Linked DNA regions of Homo sapiens. The protein of the gene in region 3 interacts with the protein of the main gene of each other region in a biochemical or structural test. Each region holds a gene or a part of one and is shown on either strand. Other genes may lie near its edges. The genes, in order: PTEN, UBE2D1, XIAP, HTRA1, UBE2D2, UBE2E1 and TCF25.

The links.
Region 1: of the proteins of XIAP (region 3) and PTEN, one has a biochemical effect on the other in vitro, tested with the Homo sapiens proteins (2 studies listed by BioGRID).
Region 2: the proteins of XIAP (region 3) and UBE2D1 form a complex in vitro, tested with the Homo sapiens proteins (8 studies listed by BioGRID and IntAct).
Region 4: the proteins of XIAP (region 3) and HTRA1 form a complex in vitro, tested with the Homo sapiens proteins (2 studies listed by BioGRID and IntAct, with this or other methods).
Region 5: the proteins of XIAP (region 3) and UBE2D2 form a complex in vitro, tested with the Homo sapiens proteins (6 studies listed by BioGRID).
Region 6: the proteins of XIAP (region 3) and UBE2E1 form a complex in vitro, tested with the Homo sapiens proteins (one study listed by BioGRID).
Region 7: the proteins of XIAP (region 3) and TCF25 form a complex in vitro, tested with the Homo sapiens proteins (one study listed by BioGRID).

Annotation. Positions count from the first base shown.
Region 1 is NC_000010.11:87,866,625-87,870,124, reverse strand, and holds part of PTEN (phosphatidylinositol 3,4,5-trisphosphate 3-phosphatase and dual-specificity protein phosphatase PTEN), read right to left. Parts: intron 1-3,500. UniProt on the Homo sapiens protein: Dual-specificity protein phosphatase, dephosphorylating tyrosine-, serine- and threonine-phosphorylated proteins.
Region 2 is NC_000010.11:58,341,506-58,345,005, reverse strand, and holds part of UBE2D1 (ubiquitin-conjugating enzyme E2 D1), read right to left. Parts: intron 1-3,500.
Region 3 is NC_000023.11:123,884,053-123,887,552, forward strand, and holds part of XIAP (E3 ubiquitin-protein ligase XIAP), read left to right. Parts: intron 1-1,578; 5' UTR 1,579-1,610; coding exon 1,611-2,487; intron 2,488-3,500.
Region 4 is NC_000010.11:122,489,053-122,492,552, reverse strand, and holds part of HTRA1 (serine protease HTRA1 precursor), read right to left. Parts: intron 3,132-3,500; coding exon 2,927-3,131; intron 1-2,926. UniProt on the Homo sapiens protein: Serine protease with a variety of targets, including extracellular matrix proteins such as fibronectin. HTRA1-generated fibronectin fragments further induce synovial cells to up-regulate MMP1 and MMP3 production.
Region 5 is NC_000005.10:139,613,339-139,616,838, reverse strand, and holds part of UBE2D2 (ubiquitin-conjugating enzyme E2 D2), read right to left. Parts: intron 2,254-3,500; coding exon 2,222-2,253; intron 2,143-2,221; coding exon 2,065-2,142; intron 1,979-2,064; coding exon 1,873-1,978; intron 1-1,872.
Region 6 is NC_000003.12:23,812,455-23,815,954, forward strand, and holds part of UBE2E1 (ubiquitin-conjugating enzyme E2 E1), read left to right. Parts: intron 1-3,500. UniProt on the Homo sapiens protein: Accepts ubiquitin from the E1 complex and catalyzes its covalent attachment to other proteins. Catalyzes the covalent attachment of ISG15 to other proteins. Mediates the selective degradation of short-lived and abnormal proteins.
Region 7 is NC_000016.10:89,897,592-89,901,091, reverse strand, and holds part of TCF25 (ribosome quality control complex subunit TCF25), read right to left. Parts: intron 2,536-3,500; coding exon 2,443-2,535; intron 2,326-2,442; coding exon 2,220-2,325; intron 458-2,219; coding exon 298-457; intron 1-297. UniProt on the Homo sapiens protein: Component of the ribosome quality control complex (RQC), a ribosome-associated complex that mediates ubiquitination and extraction of incompletely synthesized nascent chains for proteasomal degradation.

The DNA.
Region 1 (3,500 bases), on a different chromosome or scaffold from region 3:
ATGCTAAATGAAATTACTTATTATTATCTCACTTACTATTCAAGATAAACGTATGCGGTAGGTTCCATTATCATCCCCATTTTACAGATAAAATAGATTGAGAAAATCTAAATAACCTACTCAAAGTCATCCAGCTACTAAATGGAAGATCCAGGATTACAAAACAAGCAGTCTGGCTCCAGAGCCCACACTGCCTCCCTAAAATCTAAAATGAAACAATGTATATATGCTTAAAAGTATAGATAAACGTAATACTCAAAATTTTAACATAATTTAAAATAGATCTGACCATATTTAAAAACTATAGAACAATATTCTCTAAGGTAGTCTTTTCTTTAAAGAAACAAAAATTCGTTTTTTAATAAATATTAAGATAAAAGGTTTGCTAACTTTGTATACACATACACACACAGAGAAATCAAACACTGGTTAGATTCACTGTTCATATTTGAAGTGGTGAGTACTGATAATAATTATGTGTATAATTACTTAAAATATAATGTGTAAACAGTCTTCTTTTTCACACTATGTGGAGGTCAAGAAAATTCTTTTGATGGCAGGTACAGCTACAATATCCATCTCTCAATATTCTCAACACTGGCCAGGCGCAGTGGCTCACGCCTGTAATCCCAGCATTTTGGGAGGCCGAGGCAGGCGGATCACTTGAGGTCTGGAGTTTGAGACCAGCCTGGCCAAGGTGGTAAAACCCCATCTCTACTAAAAGTACAAAAACTATCTGGGCGTGGTGGCATGCACCTATAATCCCAGCTGCTTGGGAGGTTCAGGCAGGAGAATCGCCTGAACCTGGGAGGCAGAGGTTCCAGTGAGCCGAGATCCTGCCACTGCACCCCAGACTGGGCGATAGAGCGAGATTCCATCTCAAAAAAAAAAAAAAAAAAAAAAAAATTCTCAACACTGCCAAAAAGTAATGCCTTGAAGATGTCCTAATACCTTGAAGATGTTCACACATGTCCCAATGTCAACTGTTGCAAATGAAGAATCTGCCTTAACTATACAGAACTAAAACTTCCCAAATAAAATTAATTCACCCTTAAATTATGTTACTCTTCTTATATTTGCCGATACTTATTTATTCCAGTGCAAATTATTTTAAAAGAATTAAATTGCTAATACTTCCTCTGCAACCAATGAAAAAAATTCAAAAAACTAAGGGAAAGGTGAATAGTCAAGTACAATATACTAATTTCACCTTTCTTGGCAAATTATTTTACATTAGTGAATGCATATACTCAATATGTACAAAGAGAATCACCAAACACAGACCAATATACTTTTAACCACCTATGGAAGAACGTATATGTGGCAGTAATGCACCCTATAAAAGACTTACAGTTATCAGTTTGCTCAGCAAAGCCTTACCAATTTAAGGTTAGTCTAACCTCAACATTATTCTCTCTGATAAGCAACTAAATTAATTTCAAAGCTACCAAATAGAAAGCAATTGTAAAACAGAACTGACTGACCCCAGTCTCACAAATTTCCTAAGTCACTATCTTCAGAACAAATCCTAACATCTTTTCTTAATGAATTCAGGCCACAAGATGAATTCTTCAATGCTGACTGTGAAAATCAAGTTTAACAGAAAAAATGAAGAAAAAGGTAACAAGATTAAGAACTAATGGGTTCCATGTAATAAAACTTCTGAACTGTTTGTTTAACCCAACGGTTTCTACAGAAAAAAAAAAATACATTTCTTAAGCTATGTTAATATTACATTTTCTGGAAGCTAAATCCTTGTAGTATGGCAGAGGCCTCACATTTCAATTAAGCAGAAAATTGTCATATGCATGCAACACTTCTACAATTCTCTTTACAAACTCTGAAGTCACACACAATATCAATAATAAAAGTGATTTCCTAAGCTTTCGTCTTACTTAAAAGATTGAGATGAAAATTTAAAAATAGCACGTTTACTTCAAGTGAATTAATGTTAAAACTTTGTGAAGTGAATTTCCCATAACAAATACTCCTCCATTAAAAGTCACTGAAGTGATTACTTCAGAAGCGGCTTAAAATATTTTTTTAAGTGTTGCGCTATCACCAAATGAACAAACAGCAAATGGAGGCAAATTTCAAAATAACATTAGAAAATAAGAATTGAAGACTTCTTCACTTCCAAAAAGTAAGCCATTTCATAACACTAAGAAGTTTATGTATTTTATGTGGCTATGAGAAAGCAGATGCACTGTTCCATACAAAAATTAAAATATCACCAGTTGCCTTTCCCATGTTATTAAAAATAAAATTCTAAAAAGGTAATAAAGGAATCTTTCTTTACTATCTTCTAAAACTAAGTTTAAAATGAAGGTGGTTATACCTCACCATATTTTATTATCTTTAATCATTTAGTATTTACTTAGTATATTATAAGCAATGTAAATCTGCATTGATGACTATACTGCTGTGCAAACTTTTACACTGGCAGCAATAAAATTCCTTTTTCCTCATATAAACTGTACATTACTCCTTTCAGTTGTGCTTTACACTTGAATAAGCACTATGAAAAATGAAGTTTGTAAGTTATCATACAGCAATTAGGTGGTCCAGTCATGTTTTTCAGGAAATATAACTTAGCAGATACAAAACAATGTAAAATAAATGTTGTGAATAGAATACTTTTTAAAACCCTCATGATTAATTTCAGTAATCACTTACCTTGAGGTAATTTAGGTAACTTCAATAGTCACTGTACTCTCTACAAGTTAAAAGTATTCCCTGTGAACATTTATTTGAAAAGAGGCAAATCTACCAAACAATAAAAATACAACAGAAGCCTAACGTTTCCACATACCCTAAATACACTTAATTTTTCTATAGTCTCAAATTCAGCACTATATTTCAGACTAATATTAAGCATATAACCCTACTAACAAATTTTTAGAATAATTTAATTTTGCGATAATATTTTAAAACTGAATTATTGTCCTCAATTTTCCTCGGAGAAATGGCTTCATTATTAATCTTTCTTTATCAGATAAAAATACTCCAATCACTACTTTCATAAAGGAATTTAACTTTTCACAGGTTAGTTACTGAAATAAATACTACAACATGTCAAAGACAAAGTCTTCAATGACAATTTTAATGCCTTCCCACTCCAATAAACAGAAAACATTAACGTGAAAACAAGCAAACCAAGTACGTTGGAATATCAAAATTATTGGGAGTGCAATTATCAAAAAAGCAAGCACTTCACTGACTTTCCTTACTGACTTTTTTTCATATCAACTTTTGGCTCAATAAAACCACAACTCTAGAAATTAAGTGTTATTAGTCATTTGACGCAATATTTGATACTGCTTTCTATGCATATCATAACTAAAAGTACAGTTTTAGAGAAAGTTTTAAGTCACACAAATTTCATGTGTAGAGACCAACATACGCTGAAATCAAAGAAAATGCCAGTCATGTCACAGCTCACATGTAAAAACCTGGTAAAATAATTTTAAGGTCTTAATAACCCTGATAATTTAAAATCA
Region 2 (3,500 bases), on a different chromosome or scaffold from region 3:
GTAGACCCAGCTACTCAGGGGGCTGAGACATGAGAATCCCCTAAACGCAGGAGGTGGAGGTTGCAGTGAGCTGAGATCATGCCACTGCAGTCCAGCCTGGGTGACAGAGCCAGACTTTGTCATTAAAAAAAAAAAAAACAAAAAAACTATTACCTATAAGGCAGCTGTGCAGCTGTGTATGGCAGTTGTCTAAATATGTGGATAAAACAATCTTAAGTACAAAAGCTAACAAATAGAGAAAAGCTAAATGGAATTAGAGAACCACGTTATGTTACCAGTGCAATAATAGAAATACATTTTATTTGCATCATAAATAATTGCTCTTTAGTTAGAGAATAAGATTTATTGACCTTATACATTAAGAGATGTCAACATTTATTTCAAATCTGATATTTCAAAGTAAATGGAATTTTAAGTCAAGTCTAATATAGCTCCATAGCACAGTGCCAAAGCTCAGTGTTTGTTTTTGTGATCACTGTTGTTTGCTGCAAAAAAAAAAACAGCAAATACATTATTTAGGTTTGCCTAAAATTATGATTCAGAAGAGATGACAGAAAGTATCAAGTTCAATCCATTAAGTTTCCAAGTGAGGAGTATAAAGACTGAGTCTCCTGGCCAAGGTCACAAAGCCAAACTAGGACAAAGGGACAGACCATCTGACTTCTACTCCAGCACTCTTCCCACCCCAATTCAATACTCACCTCAACACTGTAACAGCTAGAGCACATTATTTTCAACCAACACTGAAGCAAACAATGCTCCAGTACTGTATTAAGGCCATTTGCACATTTTTAGCTATGCTCCAGAGAAACAAAAGTGTGATAAGTGAAGGAATGAGAAGGAATTCTTATCTTTTCTCAGGAGCTTATATCATATAAAAGGTTAGAAACGAATACTATTTCATAAGCTTTCAGGAGCGTTGTGTTTAAAGACACTCTGAGAGTCAAGAAAAACTTTACAGGAAATTATACACAACTTAAATAAATAGAATTTTCACATAAAATATGCAAATGGAGCATTTTGAGTGCTCCATTATCAAAACTTACTATTTACTTTACAGTAACCAAAAAAAGATGGAAGAAAAAAGAGAGAAAACCTAGCTGCCTATTTATTAAAACGTGTGTAAAACATGAACATGCCTACCAATACCTACCAAATATTTGTTATTAAATATTGCTTCTTACAGCTCTATACCTAATAACTGGCATATAGTGGGCACTTGAGTGTTTCATAATAAATTCTCTACTCTCTGTTAGTATCATCCAGTATTATTCTTGAATATTATGGTTGTACATCAGTCACTAAAATGCTGCTACTTGTAGAAGAAAACAATGCATACGGTCTGTATCAAATGCAAACGTTTCCAAGGCTAGAACAGTTTACATTATGTGTATATGTGTATCAATATATTTGTGTGTCTCTGTGTATGTGTATATGTATTCATTTGCTCTCCCTATATATGTATACATGTATATGTATGGTTGTATGGCATGTATTTTTAACATTAATTTTACCTAAGGATCTTATGTTATGGAACAGTGATTTTCCAGCTTTCCTTACAGCAATTTATAATATGAAAAAGATTTTACATTACAACCTAGTACACACACACACACTAAAACAAATTTCATGAAACAACACCCTTACTATATGCAAAGCACTAATATTTTCTATTCCATTTTAAAAAGTGGATGTTTATTATTCACTAAACTGTTTGGAAACTCATAAAAGAGAAAAAAAAAGATACTGGGAAGGTGTACACCTTAGTTTGGCATCCATTTCTTAGAAATAACCTACAGTCAATAGATACCAACTGGAAAATACCAAAATGAAGTCTACAAACTATTAACCATCATTCATTCAAAAGTGCTGTTGAGCACCTGAAAAGGCTGGGTCATAAAACAAGTCCCCACTTGGGAGGCTAAGGCAGGTGGATCACCTGAGGTCAGAAGTTTAAGACCAGCCTGACCAACATGGTGAAACCTTGTCTCTACTAAAAATACAAAAAATTAGCTGGGTGTGGTGGTGGGCGCCTGTAATCCCAGCTACTTGGGAGACTGAGGCAGGAGAATTGCTTGAACCCAGGAAGCAGAGGTTGCAGTGAGCCGAGATCGCGCCACTGTACTCCAGCCTGGGCGACAAGAGCAAACTTCATCTCAAAAAAAAAAAAACAAAAAAAAAACCAAAAAAAACAAGTACCCACAATTTAAAAGGAGTCAAATAATAATAGAATTTGTTCTCTGACCATAATGGAATTAGAAATCAACAACAGAAAGCTATCTGTAAAATCTCCAAACATATGGCAAATAAATAACGTATTTCTAAATAATCCAAGGGTCAAAGAAGAGATAAAAAGGAAAACTAGAAAATATCTTTAAATTTAAGTGAAAACAAAATACAGCAAAATTTGGGAGAAGCAAAAACACAAGCCAGAGATTTCCTGGTTTAAGAGAAGAGAAGAAAAATGAACCCAGACCATTTGTTAGGTCCACTTGGTTTTCTCTAGACAATCCAACCATACTACTCCCAAACTCTGCTCGCATAAGGAGGGTGGCCACCTAGAATGAGAACAATCAGATTATTATCTGAGGAAGCTTAAGGTGAAGGAACCAACTCCTCAGCTCACCCCCACTGGAGAAGTTTCTTAAGTCTGAAAAAAAACCCAGGAATCTAAATAAGAACTGTGGTGTCACTAAAAGAGATGAGCCATACAAACGGGACCATATGAATAGAGGACAGTGGGAAATACATCCAGAAAGAGGTAAGACAAGAGGATGCAGAGCATGATGGTGGAATGGACAGCACTAGACTGTATGCTTCTAGATAGCAGCTTCCTCCCCATACTAAGGACAATCCTGGAACACAACAGCCTGTTATTGTCTAATGTGTGAAACTGAACCTTCACAGATTCATCTCAGAACCAAATTAAGCACAGAAAAACCTTAGCTTCTCAGAGACCATCAAGACCAAGATGGGCCAGAAATAAAACCTGTCCTGCCTTCAGACACATGTGCTAAGGTGGCCTGAGGACCTACCCCTCCAATTCCCAAACTGCAAATATGGTCATATTATATATTCTAGTATCATTTATTCCAGCATTTCACAGGAGAGGAGAGAGGATAAGTATCTCAATTCCTGTTGTTAATTCAATGTAATCAGTTTATTCACTATTAAAAAGGCAGGGACTATTACATTAGTAGATGACCATTAACTCAGTTTTATGGCTAAATATTAGGTTTATCATTTCTATTAGTAGCACTCATTAAATGAAAATAAAGGGCCCATATGTTTTCTATGCGTATTTCAGGGAACTAAAGCGAGTAAGGACGCTATTTTGCTTTCCTGGAGGCAATCCCACATCCTGCTAGGTTTGGTTTTCATATGTGCCTGGCTTCTTAAAATAGGCATAAACAGCTTTATTTAGTTCTAGGCTATTTATTTCCACAGAGAAGAAATCTCAGAACTTTTTAACTGTCATAGGTTACCTCATTTTTTTATAC
Region 3 (3,500 bases):
CTATAAATTGACATGGCCAGGAAAGACTGAAGTCCATTGCCAGCTTGCTTTGTGTTGAACATTACTCCAAAAGAGATTAAATTTTAAGGCATATTGTGTCAACATAAAGGCAAAAGAGCTGGCTAATTCTTCTCAAGAAATCAATTAATGGCAGGGCGCGGTGGCTCACGCCTGTAATCCCAGCATTTTGGAAGGCCGAGGCGGGCAGATCACCTGAGGTCAGGAGTTCAAGACCAGCCTGACCAACCTGGAGAAACCCCGTCTCTACTAAAAAATACAAAATTAGCCGGGCATGGTGGCGCATGCCTGTAATCCCAGCTACTTGAGAGGCTGAGGCAGGATAATTGCTTGAACCTGGGAGGCGGAGGTCGCATGAACCAGTATCACACCATTGCACTCCAGCCTGGGCAGCAAGAGCAAAACTCCATCTCAAAAAAAAAAAAAATCAATTAATGCACGCATAATATAGAGACAGAGTCATTGTTACCATTCTCTTATTTTGCCTTTGACAAGTTTATATTGAGCATGTTATCAGGCAATGTGGGAGATTCTGGAGAACCAGGTTTGCCTCATAACTAGGGTTACCATATACTCTAGTTTGCCTGGGGCAACCCTGATTTATGCCTGTTGTCCCAGTGTGATTATTACTAGTGTAATTTTTCACTTTGAGAAGTGTCCAGGTTTGGAGGATAAATTATCTTTCTAATAATTGATACCCTTCTCATAACCTAACGGGTTCCTTTTAGTATTTTATCTGGGTTAAAATTACCAGCTGTAATTTGGCAGCTCTAATAAGACTGCAGCAATACTTATCTTCCATTTGAACAGATTGTTACTTGACCAAGGGAAGTTAATAGCAAAAGTAACTGCAGGGCACATGTATGTCATGGGCAAAAAAAAAAAAGTAACAGCAATTAAGGTTTGCAGGTACTTAGAATTTTTCCTGAGCCACCCTCTAGAGGGCAGTGTTACATATATATCTGTAATTATCCAGTTACAACAAAAAAAGGGCTCTCATTCATGCATGAAAATCAGAAATATTTCATACTCTTAAAGAACACATTGGAACCAATATTATGATTAAAACATATTTTGCTAAGCAAAGAGATATTAAAAATTAATTCATTAACATTCTGAACATTTTTTAACTTGTAAAAACAACTTTGATGCCTTGAATATATAATGATTCATTATAACAATTATGCATAGATTTTAATAATCTGCATATTTTATGCTTTCATGTTTTTCCTAATTAATGATTTGACATGGTTAATAATTATAATATATTCTGCATCACAGTTTACATATTTATGTAAAATAAGCATTTAAAAATTATTAGTTTTATTCTGCCTGCTTAAATATTACTTTCCTCAAAAAGAGAAAACAAAAATGCTAGATTTTACTTTATGACTTGAATGATGTGGTAATGTCGAACTCTAGTATTTAGAATTAGAATGTTTCTTAGCGGTCGTGTAGTTATTTTTATGTCATAAGTGGATAATTTGTTAGCTCCTATAACAAAAGTCTGTTGCTTGTGTTTCACATTTTGGATTTCCTAATATAATGTTCTCTTTTTAGAAAAGGTGGACAAGTCCTATTTTCAAGAGAAGATGACTTTTAACAGTTTTGAAGGATCTAAAACTTGTGTACCTGCAGACATCAATAAGGAAGAAGAATTTGTAGAAGAGTTTAATAGATTAAAAACTTTTGCTAATTTTCCAAGTGGTAGTCCTGTTTCAGCATCAACACTGGCACGAGCAGGGTTTCTTTATACTGGTGAAGGAGATACCGTGCGGTGCTTTAGTTGTCATGCAGCTGTAGATAGATGGCAATATGGAGACTCAGCAGTTGGAAGACACAGGAAAGTATCCCCAAATTGCAGATTTATCAACGGCTTTTATCTTGAAAATAGTGCCACGCAGTCTACAAATTCTGGTATCCAGAATGGTCAGTACAAAGTTGAAAACTATCTGGGAAGCAGAGATCATTTTGCCTTAGACAGGCCATCTGAGACACATGCAGACTATCTTTTGAGAACTGGGCAGGTTGTAGATATATCAGACACCATATACCCGAGGAACCCTGCCATGTATAGTGAAGAAGCTAGATTAAAGTCCTTTCAGAACTGGCCAGACTATGCTCACCTAACCCCAAGAGAGTTAGCAAGTGCTGGACTCTACTACACAGGTATTGGTGACCAAGTGCAGTGCTTTTGTTGTGGTGGAAAACTGAAAAATTGGGAACCTTGTGATCGTGCCTGGTCAGAACACAGGCGACACTTTCCTAATTGCTTCTTTGTTTTGGGCCGGAATCTTAATATTCGAAGTGAATCTGATGCTGTGAGTTCTGATAGGAATTTCCCAAATTCAACAAATCTTCCAAGAAATCCATCCATGGCAGATTATGAAGCACGGATCTTTACTTTTGGGACATGGATATACTCAGTTAACAAGGAGCAGCTTGCAAGAGCTGGATTTTATGCTTTAGGTAAACTTTATTATAAAACCAATAAATAGCTTCCCAAGTATGCCAGGGCTCATAAAAAGTAAATAGATGCCCTTAGCCCCCTGAACTGGTAAATATTTAGGTATAACTTGGCATGATTATATATATATCTGTATTATTCCGTGAACTCTTATGTTGAACCTGTAATGTAACTACTGAATTTATGTGAAAAAGACTACCATATTATGAGTCATGCTTCTCTTCATGTAATTGTTTTTAGGAAGTAGATAACTTGCAAAAGATGGTAGACATCCCCAATAGCAAAATGGGTCTAATAGTAATATTAACCATCATTTATTGAGCACTTACTATAAGTGCTCAATACATATACTTCATGCATTTTCTCTAAGCTTCACAATAGCTTTGTTTGTTTGTTTTTGAGACAGAGTTTCGCTCTTGTTATCCAGGCTGGAGTGCAATGGCGTGATTTAGGCTCACCACAACCTCCACCTCCCGGGTTCAAGCGATTCTCCTGCCTCAGCCTCCTGAGTAGCTGGGATTACAGGCATGTGCCACCACGCCCGGCTAATTTTGTATTTTTAGTAGACACAGGGTCTCTCCCTGTTGGTCAGGCTGGTCTCAAACTCCTGACCTCAGGTGATCCACCCGCCTCGGCCTCCCAAAGTGCTGGGATTACAGGTGCATGCACCATGCCTGGCTAATTTTTGTACTTTTAGTAGAGACAGGGTTTCACCATGGCCAGGCTGGTCTCGAACTCCTGACCTTGTGATCCGCCCGCCTTGGCCTCCCAAAGTGCTGGGATTACAGGCATGAGCCACTGCGCCGGCCATATGAGTACTTTCAAATGGACTGTGGTAGACATTTCAGGAAGGGCCATTGGAGTGATTGCTTCTAAAGATATTTTAAAAAGTTATACCATTATATATTTGACCCATTTATTTTAAGATTGAATAATGCCTATAAAATATTGGTTATTTCGAAAGATTTTATTTATGTACCATCATATAGTAATCTTGAAGGTTTGTTTAGTGTCA
Region 4 (3,500 bases), on a different chromosome or scaffold from region 3:
AGACCAGCCTGGCCAACATGGCAAAACCCGGTCTCTACTAAAAATACAAAAAGTAGCCAGGCATGGTGGTGCACGCCTGTAGTCCCAGCCACTCAGGAGGCTGAGGCAGGAGAATCACTTGAGTCCTGGAGGTGGAGGTTGCAGTGAGCGGAGATGGCGCCACTGCACTCCAGCCTGGGCAACAGTAAAACTCTGTCTCAAAACATAAAAATAAAATGAAATAAACATGTTTATGAAGGACAACGGGGGCCCCTCCAAGTGAAATCAGGATGCCAGGGGAGGAGCTGGGCCCAGATGATAAGCCACCGAGTTAGTCACTGGGCCCACGGACGCGGCAGGCAGTCTCACCAGCTTCACTGGGTTACTCTTAAATGGCTTTGCAGGAGGCTGGGCCACAGTCTCATATGACAAGGAGCCGTGTAGGTGATTTTCATTCCTCAAGCACAGTTTCTGCTGGTTCTGTTCTGCCTTCTCGGTTTTCCTGATCTCTTTCATCCTCTTTGTTATCCCTAAGATGACACAAAGCAAGGCCAGCCAGAGCTTCCCCCGAAATAACCCATCATCAAAACAAGGGAACAAAAGAGAAAAAGCTGGAAGAGATGCTGTTACTCTCCCTACTTTCAACTACTATCAGCAAAAAAAAGCAGTTTAGTCAGTGGAAACCAGTCTTTTGTGTGGGTGTCTGCAATTTAATATCCTTTCATTTCCAATTCCATTTTGAAAAGCCACATCAGTTCAATTTTAAATTTCAAGCACCCTTTCTTGGGGGGCTTGAAACACATGTCAAACAGCATGCTGCTGGCTGAAGAGCTAAACTCCCAAGACAGCAGGAGTCAGGTCAGACACACTCTGCAAAGCTCGTCTATTGAGATCGTTCACGTCTTGCCAGGACATGCCAGGGATGGCACGAGGAGACAGTCTCCACCTTGGCTCAAAATTGGAAAAGAATATCCCCCGGCCAGAAGCAGCCGCACGGTATGTGCCCACGCATTCCAAACACGAAGTTACGCAGTGGGGGCGGCGTCCAGGCCAGCGCCTCGCCTGCACACAGCCCATGCCCTGCTGCTGGCTGCCTCCCAAAGCTCCATGAGGCTGAACAGGTCCCACGCGTGGCCACAGGCTGTGCTATTCTGACTGGCTCCTTCCGGTGAGACTACCACATCCTGGATACCTTTCTAGCAGCCTGTTCCTAAACCAGATGCACCCGCCTTCCCATGGGCTGTTTAAGGTCAAGCTGTCCCATCAAACCACGGGGCCGGCCTCTATCCCTCCAGCAGTAGCCATGGGCTGCCTTAGGAGGGCAGGGTCATGAGGTGTTTGCTGTGTGGCCTCACACAGGTTACTAGACTTCTCTGAGCCCCTGTTTCTTCTTCTCTAAAATGGGGATAACACAGCTATTATGCAGATTAGGTGAAAAAGAATGAAGGCAGAGGCTGGCCCAATAATCCTGTGACCAATAAACACACTTTGAAAGATTAGTTGTCGCTAGAAATTCCACAGTGACCTAATAGAAATAACACACAACTGCAGCCTCACTCAAGGCCAGTTACACACACCGGGCACAGAGCCTATATCTACCCAGAGCCTCTTCGGCCATGCCTGGCCACCCAGCCATAGAGAAGCTACAGGAACATCGGGGAAGGAGGGTAGTAAATGTGTTAGCTGGTGGTTTTCTGAAGACTGGCCGTAAAGGAGCCTGAGCTGGGCAGCAACTTGATGTTATAAAAAGACGGAGAAGGAGACCCGGAATCCTACCACCCAAACAGCACACGCAGAGTTGTTTCCAGAAGGAGGTGTAACCAGCGTGCCACTGAACAGCACAAACAGCCAGATTAATTCCACGCTTGTCTGGAATTACTCAGCCCACACCCAGGTAAAGCGAGGCAAGCAGAGGGCTGGACAAGAGACCCCACCTGGCTCAGCCTCTGGTCTTTTCCTTGGTCAGAGGCAGGATTCCAGCCTCCTCTGATTGTTCCCTCCATCTGAAGTCTAGAAAATTATAAGGATGTGAAGAAACTGGAAACCACGCTTTCACTGAACATGCCACACAGCAAACAAAACCTCTCTCATCGACGTGTCGAGTGGGGGTTTTTGATGAGTCAGTAAGAAATGGATATTGTCCCAGACATGAAGACTTTGCTAAGCAAATCAACAGAGCAAAAATGATTGCAAAGAGAATATTTAAATAGAAAGCATTTTCAAATACAGCATTTCCCAAACTGATTTTGGTATGTCTCAGTTCTGCCTGCCCCCACAAAAAGCTGTATACTCAAATGATTATAATTTGGGCAAATAGTTCAGTCAACACCCTTTTGTAGGCAAGCCACGTGCACACTAGCATACTAAAAGCTCTGAGAAGGTCTGGAAAGAAGAAATCCATTAGCTCTGTTTTAATTCAAGTTTTCCAAGATGTTTAAAGTACGAAACATTCTTTTGAAACACATCTCATAACCCCGCAAAACCCCAATTTGGGAGAGCTGGTTTGTTTTCAAAGTAACTGTTGACAAGTTAAGGATGGCTCAGTCTAAAACCCAGTAAATTCTATGTTCATTGTGAACGCATGATGTATCTGTGGAGGATAAATAAAATCTGTAACAAGAGTTGCCACAGGATTGGGAATGGGAAGGAGAATCAATTTTCACTACTTACCTACTAATTTCTTTACAAATCTATTGCTTTCTTTGACAAACATTTAAAACATTATTTTAAAAACTTTTATCTGGCTCCTTACAGAAGTTTTCCTGAGCCCCTTCCTCTCCCACACCCCCAGGCCATACTCAGCATCTCCTCAAGGCCCTCCTGTGACTGGCTCAGACTGGCTTCAGTGCCCCCCGAGAATCAGCTGCAATCAGAGAGCTCTGGTGCCTTTGCCAAGGGTGTTCCGGGGCATCTGAGAACTCACCTCTGCAGGCGAGAACACCCTTACCTGGTGGTCAATTTTGATGAGTGCGATGTCTGCTTTCTCATCCACATCCTTGATTTTGGCTTCGTAAGTGGCACCGTTCTTCAGCTCAACTTTGACCCGGTGCTTGTTGGTCACCACGTGGGCATTTGTCACGATCAGTCCATCTTCCGACACAATAAACCCAGACCCACTAGCCACCGGCACCTCTCGTTTAGAAAACGGAAGCCTAAAATCCAAAGGAGTACACACTTAAGCCTGTAGCACCTTAAAATGAACGCTTCAACGCATTGATTAATGGGTTGTGCAACAGCCACACACACCTAGCCATCGCTCCTTTATATATCGGGCTTAGCATTTAAACACTAAACATCCTGCCAATTTTTTGCATGCATCAAAAACTTCCACTTACAAAATATTCTTAGAGAATCTCTTCAGAGCCCGAGGTTCTTTAAACATTCAGAAGGGTCAAGAATGTAGATTTATATAGTCGAATAGGGAAAATGTTCTAAGGGAGACACACTTATCTTAAGTAGGAAGATATTCAGTGACACTTTGACACTTTAATGTATCTCAAAAATAGCTCTCATGTTTTGCT
Region 5 (3,500 bases), on a different chromosome or scaffold from region 3:
TAACCTCCAATTTTCAGAACTAAATCACAATGTCACAAATGTACTTGTATACAAAGTTTTTTCAGCATTTGGGATTGTTTTCTTAGTATAAATAAATGAAACTAGAATTATTGGGTGAATGGGCATGGATGATTAAGTCTCTTAACACATACTGGCAGACTGGGCTCTACAAATCTATACCTCTACTTGAAGAATATGAGTGTTCATTTCAATGTACCTCATTAGTGTTTTGTCTTCTTTTAAAAATATCTTTGTTAATTAAAAAGGTAAAAAATAGGAACGTAACATTCATTTATTTATTCTTTGGTTCCCCTGTGTCCATTCATCTATTGGGATCTGAATTTTTTTCTGATTTTTGTACTTCATATTTTAAACATATTAATCCATTACCATATTTGATTTTTCTCTTAAACAACTGATTTCATTTTCACAAAAGTACATCCAGTGAACTCTTTTATCACCTTTCAGAGTACAGCAGTGAGATCTGATAAATATTCTTGTTTTTGAGACGGAGTCTCGCTCTGTCCCCCAGGCTGGCCAGGCTGGAGTGCAGTGGCGCAATCTCAGCTCACTGCAACCTCCGCCTCCTGGGTTCAAGCGATTCTCCTGCCTCGGCCTCCCAAAGTGCTGGGATTACAGGCGTGAGCCACCGTGCCAGGCCATAAATACTTGTTTTTGTTTTCCTTTATAAATTCTAGATTATTTGGCTGGGCACGGTGGCTCATGCCTGTAATCCCAGCGCTTTGGGAGGCCGAGGCAGGTGGATCATAAGGTCAGGCGTTCGAGACCAGCCTGGCCAACATGGCGAAACCCAGTCTCTACTAAAAATACAAAAATTAGCTAGGCGTGGTGGCGGGTGCCTGTAATCCCAGCTACAAGGGAGGCTGAGGCAGGAGAATTGCTTGAACCCGGGAGGTGGAGGTTTCAATGAGCCAAGATTGCACCACTGCAGTCTAGCCTGGGCGACAGAGTGAGACTCCATCTCAAAAAAAAAAAAAAAAAAAAAAAATCTAGATTATTGTAACGCAACTGTGATTTCATCTGGGAATAATGTTGAAGGGTTGTACAATTTCAAATCAACACATTAAGACAACAACTACATCACTCAGTTCATTGATACAGAAACCTAAAGACAAGAGCTGGTAAAATATTTACCTATATTTTGTTCTTCAAGAACCTAACGTCTATGTTTACAGCATAGGCATTTGTCTAAAGGGCTGGTCTATTTCCTATTCTGCAATAGTATCTATCTTTTTCCATTCATGAATCTCAAGGTTGGAAGAGATGTTAATTGTGCTCTACTTTATGCTCTAAAAAAACATTCATACCAGTGTCCATCTTCTTTTTTTTTTTTGAGACAGAGTCTCGCTCTGTTGCCCAGGCTGGAGTGCAGTGGCACAATCTCTGCTCACTGAAACCTCTGCCTCCCGGGTTCACACCATTCTCCTGCCTCAGCCTCCCGAGTAGCTGGGACTACAGGCACCTGCCACCATGCCCAGCTAATTTTTTTGTATTTTTAGTAGAGACGGGGTTTCACCATGTTAGCCAGGATGGTCTCGATCTGCTGACCTTGTGATCTGCCCGCCTCGGCCTCCCAAAGTGCTGAGATTACAGGCATGAGCCACGGCACCAGGCCCAGTGTTCATCTTCTAACCTATGCTAGAGTAGCACAACTGACAGACTAGTCACTACACCAAGGAATACTTTTGCTTGAAAAATCCAACTCGTTTTCAGTTCTCAAGGTCCATTTCAGATTAAGAAGAATTGCTATCTCTTCTTAAAAGAAACATAAGTAATCTTTTCAAAAATAAATAACTCTAAAAAGACAAAAGACACGGTTGCTTTATCTTGATATCAAATACCCACTGTTACCTTTTGAAATAGTTAGTGCTGGAGACCACTGTGATCGTAGAATATCAAGACAAATGCTGCCATTACTGTTAATATTTGGATGATAAATTCTTGTTGTAAATGCAACCTACAGAAAGAAAGGAAACTTTCTGTAAACTAGTTTATTAGTATTATAGAAAGTACATTAAAAACTGCCACATTCCAATTAATTACCTTAGGTGGTTTGAAGGGGTAATCTGTTGGGAAATGAATTGTCAAGAAAAATACTCCACCCTGATAGGGACTGTCATTCTGTTGATAACAAGAAAAGTGGGATTAAAATGAGTAAATTACATAAACTGTTTATTCTGAAATTAATCTGAATACTTACTGGCCCCATTATTGTAGCTTGCCAATGGAACACTGAAAAATAACAAGAAAAAAGTCACCATGTAACAATATCTACATTGTATCTACGCCATAGTAACATATCATTCCCCTTCTAATCCAAATTCATTTATAAATAATATGATAATGAGTATGAGCAAGATGAGGAACATAAATTAACAGTCTAAAGAAACAAGAAAAATGACTAGAATGGCCTAGAACACTGATAAGGTGCTCAATGAAAAATATTTAGAGCCAGGTGTGGTGGCTCACACCTGTAATCCCAACACTTCCAGAAGCTGAGGTGAGAGGACTGCTTGAGCCTGAGAAGTGGAGGCTGCAATGAGCCATGACTGCGCCACTGCAAGACTCTCTCAAAAACAAAAACAAAAAAAACCGAAAGTATTTGGGCTAAAACTTCTTGAAACTTCATGTCAGGTAGACAAACTTCTTGACAAGGCTTACAGTTCTACTTTTAAACAGTTATTTCTTTACCTCACAGGGTAAATCATTTCTTCAAAACAATTACATATAATACACTTTTTTTTTTTTTTTTTTTTGAGACAGAGTCTCACTCTATCGCCCAGGCTGGAGTGCGCTGGCGCAATTTCGGCTCATTGCAACCCCCGCCTCCCGGGTTCAAGCAATTCTCCTGCCTCAGCCTCCCAAGTAGCTGGGACTACAGGCAAGTGCCACCACACCTGGCTAATTTTTGTATTTTTAGTAGAGACAAGGTTTTGCCACGTTTGGCCAGGTCTCAAACTCCTGACCTCAGATGATCCACCCACCTCAGCCTCCCAAAGCTGGAATTACAGGCATGACTCCTTTTATAATGCTGGTATACGGGGGACAAAACAGTAAAGTCAAGGTAGATAATACTCAAATTAAGAAAGACTGGTTTTAACAAGGAGAAAAAATTTCTAAAAACTCTTGTGTAGGTCTGTACATTACTGGCCCTCATTAAAGAAAGAAAAACATCTCTCCTAATGTAAAGGATAAGTTAAAGAGGAAAAAAGAGAAAAAAGGAGTAAAATTTAAGAAGAAAATATTAGCTGAAAGCCCAAGGTTGATTACAAGCTCCAGGGATACTTCTAATAAGTTATAAACTTGTTCAATAAATAAATATCTTCCAAATGCAGAAAATGATGCTTGTTCCATGTTCTCATGCTACTAAGTGCATCATGAGAGATCAAAAGCCAGAGTTTTTACTTATAATTAAGCTACTACTTAGCACACTTACCATTCATACTATGATCTGAGCAACCTAAGGGAAGTTGTCACTG
Region 6 (3,500 bases), on a different chromosome or scaffold from region 3:
TGAAAAGCTAAATGAAGTATTTTGTTTAGTAACAGTGAACTTTGGAAACTAATTAGTGGATTAAATACAAAACTATTGCCGTTTTGGTTACATTCATTCTTAATGTTGATTAGGTGTGGGATGCTCTTCCGTGAAACTTTGTCCTGTTTTGTAAGGAAAGTCATTTTGAGTTTGAAATGCTCTTAAACTATAGTTTATAATTGGAACACTTAATCATTCTGGGGAATTCTTTCCTGGCTAATAATCTCTCAAGATGGTTGAGAAGTGGAAAAACCATAAGACTTAGGCCTAACTCATTATTTTGATGGTGGTGGTTCACGTGGAAGCCTGTAGCTTCCCTTGGTTGTTTGTGTGGAATCCATGTACATTCCCCAAGGTGGTTCTGTGCTGTCTAGTTATTGCTCCTGCTTGGTATTGTGTGTCTCCTATGTGTGTGTTATTAATAACATTGATTAAAACATATAATGGCTTTCTTGTGAATAAGCACAGTCAAATCTAAAATTGTAAACCATTTGAAGATTTTCATGGGATTAAGCATTTAAAAAAAAAAAACAGTGTAAGTACACTTCAGTTTCACATCGTTTTAACTGAGTTTATGTGTGAAAGATTTATGCTCCTGAGGCATGTGGAACTTTTTTATCTTTGGGAAACCCTCCCAATTACCCCTTCAAGGTGAAACGTTTGGGAATTACCTGTGGTCAGGGGATGCACCAAACTGGGTGGCTGTTGGGTGATTGGTGTTACGGAGTCAAAGCTCAAAATACTAAATTTTAAGAAAAATCTCTGATTTGAGAGAAAATACGAGGCATCTTCATTTTGCAAGAGAATGTATATTACATTGTCTTTTAACAATAAAGATGACTTTATTTTCTGAAGATATTTTCCAGTGGGGCCGTTTGAGTAATGTGAATTAAAATTTTTACTTTTGGTTGGCTAATGGTGCTGTCTTAATGTTATATAGTAGTCCCAATATTCAGCTCTCTTAAAAGAGTTCGGTTTTACGTTTTGTGCTGTTACCTTTTGGAATTTAATTATTTAGTATTTTAATGTACTTTATTGGAGATAAAGATGGATTATTTATTTATTTATTTATTTATTTTCTTTTTGAGACGGAGTCTTGCTCTGTAGCCCAGGCTGGAGTGCAGTGGCATGATTTCGGCTCATTGCAACCTCCACCTCCCGGGTCCTGGTTCAAGCAATTCTCCTGCCTCCTGAGTAGCTGGGATTATAGGCACGTGCCACCATGCCCAGCTAATTTTTGTATTTTGGGTAGAGATGGGGTTTCACCATGTTGGCCAGGCAGGTCTTGAACTCCTGACCTTGTGATCTGCCCGCCTTGGCCTCCCAAAGTGCTGGGGTTACGGGCGTGAGCCACTGCACCTGGCCTTGGGGATACTTTTTGAAGTCAGCGTCCAATGAAAATCTATGAATTAAGTGATATATTAAGTGCGTACATGTTTAAAATTACCCTCAGCATGAAAGCATGAGATTTGAATGAGTTAAATAATTGGTTTTCAATTAGTCTGTCTTATATTTTTACCCTTTGCCATACTTCCTTTCTTCAGTCAGCATTCAGTGTGTAGTTTTAAACACGTTATTAAAATATGGCACTTGGCACATAGTAACTTCTCAGTAAATACAAAAATTAGCCGGGCATGGTGATGCACTCCAGCCTGGGCGACAGAGTGAGACCCTGTCTCAAAAAAAAAAGTTGATTATTGCAAATCAGTAGAATTGCTCCTCTTGAAGGAAGGTGCACTGTTTGTGTTCACTAATTTTGGCACTTGGCAAAAATATTTGAAGTTACTGAGCATCAAAACTTATGTGAAATGCAATTGCTCAATATGTTATAATGTATGAAAACATAAAATTAAATTCTTAATGTTGTATATTATGTTGGGTGGATATTTTTTAGAACACAGTACAGATTGTGTTCAATGACCTGGTCCAAAGTCATTTTAAGTAAGTATTTTCAAACTGCTTTATGTTGCCATAGAAATCAAATTCTTAATTTTAGTATCTGTGATTTGTGTGTGTGTGTATATATATGCATACACACACACACAAAATAGTTTCCCAACTCACTCTTCATTTTGGTTAGGCTTTTATTCCCATATCATTTAGCTCTATTCTTTTAGGGAAAAAAATATGTTAACTTTGTAATGATTCCCTAAAGCGTGCCAGATCTTAGATTGTAAAATTATGCCTTTTAGATAGCTGATGAACTCTGGGCCACCAGAGTCAGTTTTGCAGCTGTTATTTATAGCCCAGGGCTCAAACTTTGCTAAATTGACTAGTTATAACTAGCCTGTAGACACGAATATCTGTAGACAGTATGTCTATACAGACTAAATGGCATATTTTGCCTAAGTCCTTTAAACTTCAGATTTTATTTAATGGATATATTTGTTTCATGAGTAAATGTCTCAGTGACTTAACCTAGAAATTCAGATGGGGTGCTATTTTAGGATAAAATGTCTGAAAAGTCATTAAACACTTCAAGCATGGGTGAGAATAATAAAAATACATTTCTTTCTTTCTCACTTTTTTTTTGAGACAGGGTCTCATTTTGTCACCCAGGCTGGAGTGCAGTGGTGCTCACTGCAGCCTTGACCTCCTGGGCTTAAGCTGTCCTCCTGCTTCAGGCCCCCAAGTAGCAGGAACTACAGGCGTTCGACACTACACTCGGTTAATTTTTTGTATTTTTTTGTAGAGACCAGGTTTTACCTATTGGCCAGGCTGATCTTAAACTCCTGGCCTCAAGCCGTCCACCCACTTTGCCCTTCCAGAGTGCTGGGATTACAGGCGTGAGCCATGGTGCCTGGCCCTGATACTAGTTTTTCTGTATGTGACAGAATTTCCATTTAGCCTTCTTTTGATAGCTTTTTTTTCCCTAACACTGCCTATATTTTAAATAGTTTTAAGCCATTATATTATACAAGAATGCATGTTTTTGAAAAATTCAAATACAGAAGTTTGTGGAGTAAAAGGCAAAAGATAGTCCTGATGACCTCTTCTGATCCTGCTCCTTGCACACAGATGCTCCAAGTTAGCACTTTGTATACTTCCACGTAGTTTCTGTGAATTTACATTGTGTTTTTCTGGCATTCCAATACCTCCTCGAATTGGTGGTAATGGTAATGAGATGTCAGTTCAGAAGTCCCAGGCTGCTCATCATGGTTCACAATGGAAAGAGATCCTTTTCTTGCAACAGTGGAGTGTTACATACCTCGTCCAGGTTCAGCATGTTTTAAATGGTTGTTTGGGTATAAGAAATAGGTTCAGCAGAAGTCATCCTTTATAAAACCCTGTATCTTATGTGCTAAAAAGTATTCTTCCTTTTAGCATCTTTCATTTATCTGATGTTACTAAATGCGTTAAGGATAGAAGTGTGACTTAAACATCTGAATGATGTTTAGTTTCACCATTGCAGTGTGTATACCTTTATGCATGTAAAGGCAGTGTTGAAAAATTGTGACAACCAGGAGACTGGGGTTTCA
Region 7 (3,500 bases), on a different chromosome or scaffold from region 3:
GGTACAATCCAATGCCCCGCACCTCCCAGCCAGTTCTGTCTCTGCACTCTAGAACACAGGCCCCACGGGGGTCGGGATGCCTGCCACCTCCTCGTGCCTGGCTTGGCACGCAGCGGGTTCCGAGATGAGCCGACCCTCTTTCAGGTTTGGTAGGGCAGGTTTGCAGGCCCTACCAGAGAATGCATGTTTCTACAAGTGTGGGGAAGGACTGGGACCTGGCCTCCACCACCAGGAAGAGCAGCCCCCACGGCTGACAGGACACACCCCTACCCCAGGCGAGACACAGCGCTCACTCACCTCCAGGGAACATGGTGAGCGCCTGCTGTATCAGGAGAGAGGCCTTCTGCCTGGCAGAGCTCTGCTCACACTCAGGGAGGTCTGTCTGCTGGCTCAGCAGGAAATACGCCAGTGGAACAGAGAAGGCAAAATTAGGGAGCTGGGACAGGTTCCGATGAGCCTACGAGGGACGAAGAAACAGAGCGTGGAGCCTTAAGTCATAAAGACAAAATATGTGAGTTTGCAGACGCTCTGACATCACCAGTGAGCCCTACCCCGAGCAGGTATATTCTGCAGGCAACGCAAGGGCCTCTTCCTAACTCAGCATAAAGATAACTTAAAACGTCCACCTGGGGGGCTTTCCGCATGCAGAAGATACAGAGGACGTGGGAGGGCCTGAGAAGTAGACTGAGCCGGAGCGAGGACACCGTGGGGAGTGAGGGTCCCACCTGCCGCCCAGGCTCCTCTCTGAAGCTGAGCAGTTGGTGCTCTCAATGTGGAAAATTTACAGACGAGAGCAGCCCACCCCCGCGCGAGTCTGTGAGAGCAGCCCACTGCCGCGCGAGTTTCCGAGAGCAGCCCGCCACGCGAGTTTCCGAGCAGTCTACCACCGTGCCAGTTTCTCTTGCCTTTCTCAGCCTATGTCACATATTGTAGACATGTGACTCACTGCATTTTTTTCTATCAAAATGGGATCACAGACTCACAGTTTTGTGACCTTAAACACCATCATCAACATTCTTCTGCAGCCCCATTTTGGGGGACTCCCTGAGGTTTCCCTGCACCTACATTTTTGTGAGCTCCAGGAATTTCTATAAACCACATTCCTGGGGGTGAGACTTCCTGGCCAACTATGCCAAATGCTTAAAAATTCAAAATAATTTACCCACTTTCATTATCCATGAACATGTGCTATGAAAAAAATTCAACACAGAAGCAGAGAAAGTCAAGAGCTGTCGCCTTCTCCCCAGCCCCAGGCCCTGCTGGAGGTTAGCGTTACAAAGCCCGTGTCCTTCCAGATAAGTGCTGCCCCATAGGAACATAATGGGAGCCCAGGTGTCAATTTAAATTTTCTTTTTTTTTTTTTGAGACGGAGTTTCACTCTGGTTGCCCAGACTGGAGTGCAATGGCGCGATCTCGGCTCACCGCAACCTCCACCTCCCAGGTTCAAGCGATTCTCCTGCCTCAGCCTCCCGAGTAGCTGGGATTACAGGCATGCACCACCACGCCCAGCTAATTTTGTATTTTTAGTAGAGACAGGGTTTCTCCATGTTGAGGCTGGTATCAAACTCCTGACCTCAGGTGATCCGCCCGCCTCGGCCTCCCAAAGTGCTGGGATTACAGGCGTGAGCCACCATGCCCGGCCCAATTTAAATTTTCTGGGAGCTGCATTAAAGACAAAACAGGTGAGATTAATACGTTATATCTAACCCAATACACCGAAATTATCATTCCAACACGTGTCTGTGTTAGAGTTACTGGGGACAGAGCTCAAGTCTCTCCTGCTGTACTCACACTCTTCCCATGGAACAGGACAGACGTGCTGGGGGTCCCTGTGTCAGCCCCACGCAACCAACCCTCCTTCTACCTCCCGGCTGCATCTTCCTGAACTGCCCATGAGGAGCTCGGGAGTTGTCGGTTTTTCATCATTACCAGCATCACAGTCCTTGCAGGCACACGTGTGCATGTGTACACACGTTTGAGCATGTGTACACACGTATGAGGATTCTGACATAAGGCTGCTGTACTGTCCCTAGGAAAACCACATTCCACTCCGTAGAGGCGGCAAGGGAGACAAACAAGGCAGGAGGACGTGGTTCTGCCCTCAGACGATTATCGTTTCATCCCCAAACGTCCCCTGAGCGCACAGATACTGAACCAAGAAAACAGAAGGAGAAGCAGGTGTCCGTCCCTCCACGGGGCCTCACCAGGCTCGCACCCACCTCCCACTCCTGGAAGAGGCGGATCAGGTACTCGTAGTTCCGGGCCCGCAAGGCCAGGTGGTCGATGAGCAGCAGCATGCAGAGGGGGTCCTCATCCGGCTCGAGACTTCCGGAGGCAGCACAGAGAGCAGAGCAAAGGGGAACAGGGGCATCGTCAGGCTGAGAGTGGGCCTGCAGCCAGGACAGGGAGCGTGGACGGGCTTGGCCCTGAGCAGACACTCACCTCAGGATGAGCTTGCAGTACTCCAGCGCCGTGCGCGGGCAGCCTCGCTTCTCCAGGAAGCTCATCTGCTTGTAGAGGGCCAGGTAGAAGCTCCTAGATCCAAAATAGTTCCACATGAATTACAACGACACAAAGGAGAATGCTCTCTGCTCAGCGCCCCGGCCAGCACCCACTCCACCCCGCCCTCTGCTCAGCGTCCTGGCCAGTACCACCCATTCCACCCCACACACTGCTCAGCGCCCCAGTCAACACCCGCTCCACCCCACACACTGCTCAGCGCCCCAGTCAACACCCGCTCCACCCCACACACTGCTCAGCGCCCCAGTCAGCACCCGCTCCACCCCACACACTGCTTAGCGCCCCGGTCAGCACCCGCTCCACCCCCATTCTGCTCTCTGGGTTCTGCTGGCATTTTCTACGTGCCCAGCACACAGAGATCCATGTCTGGAGAGGAGGTGTGCGCTCTCCTTGTCCTTTACAGAGTTATACACGAATTTGCATACTGAAAATCAAACTTCTTTGAAATCTTTTTTTTTTTTTTGAGACGGAGTCTCGCTCTGTCACCCAGGCTGGAGTGCAGTGGCGCTATCTCGGCTCGGCTCATTGCAAGCTCCGCCTCCTGGGTTCATGCCATTCTCCTGCCTCAGCCTCTCCAAGTAGCTGAGACTACAGGCACCCGCCACCACACCCAGCTGATTTTTTGTATTTTTAGTAGAGACGGGGTTTCACCGTGGTCTCGATCTCCTGATCTTGTGATCCACCTGCCTCGGTCTCCCAAAGTGCTGAGATTACAAGCGTGAGCCACCACGCCCCGCTGAAATCTTTATCTTGTTTTTTTGTTTATTATTTATCATTTACAGGAAGAGAGTTAAAATCTCTTGTTACAATTACGATCTTAATTTATCCTCCAATCTCAACAGTGGCTAACAGCACTCAGGCTGGATACATGGAGCCCTGTGACTTTCGGATGCTGGTGGGCTGCTACTTCCATCAACAGCCCACTGTCTCTTTCGCGTCGGGAAATATTAATATTTTATAATCTACTTCAAAGAACTAAG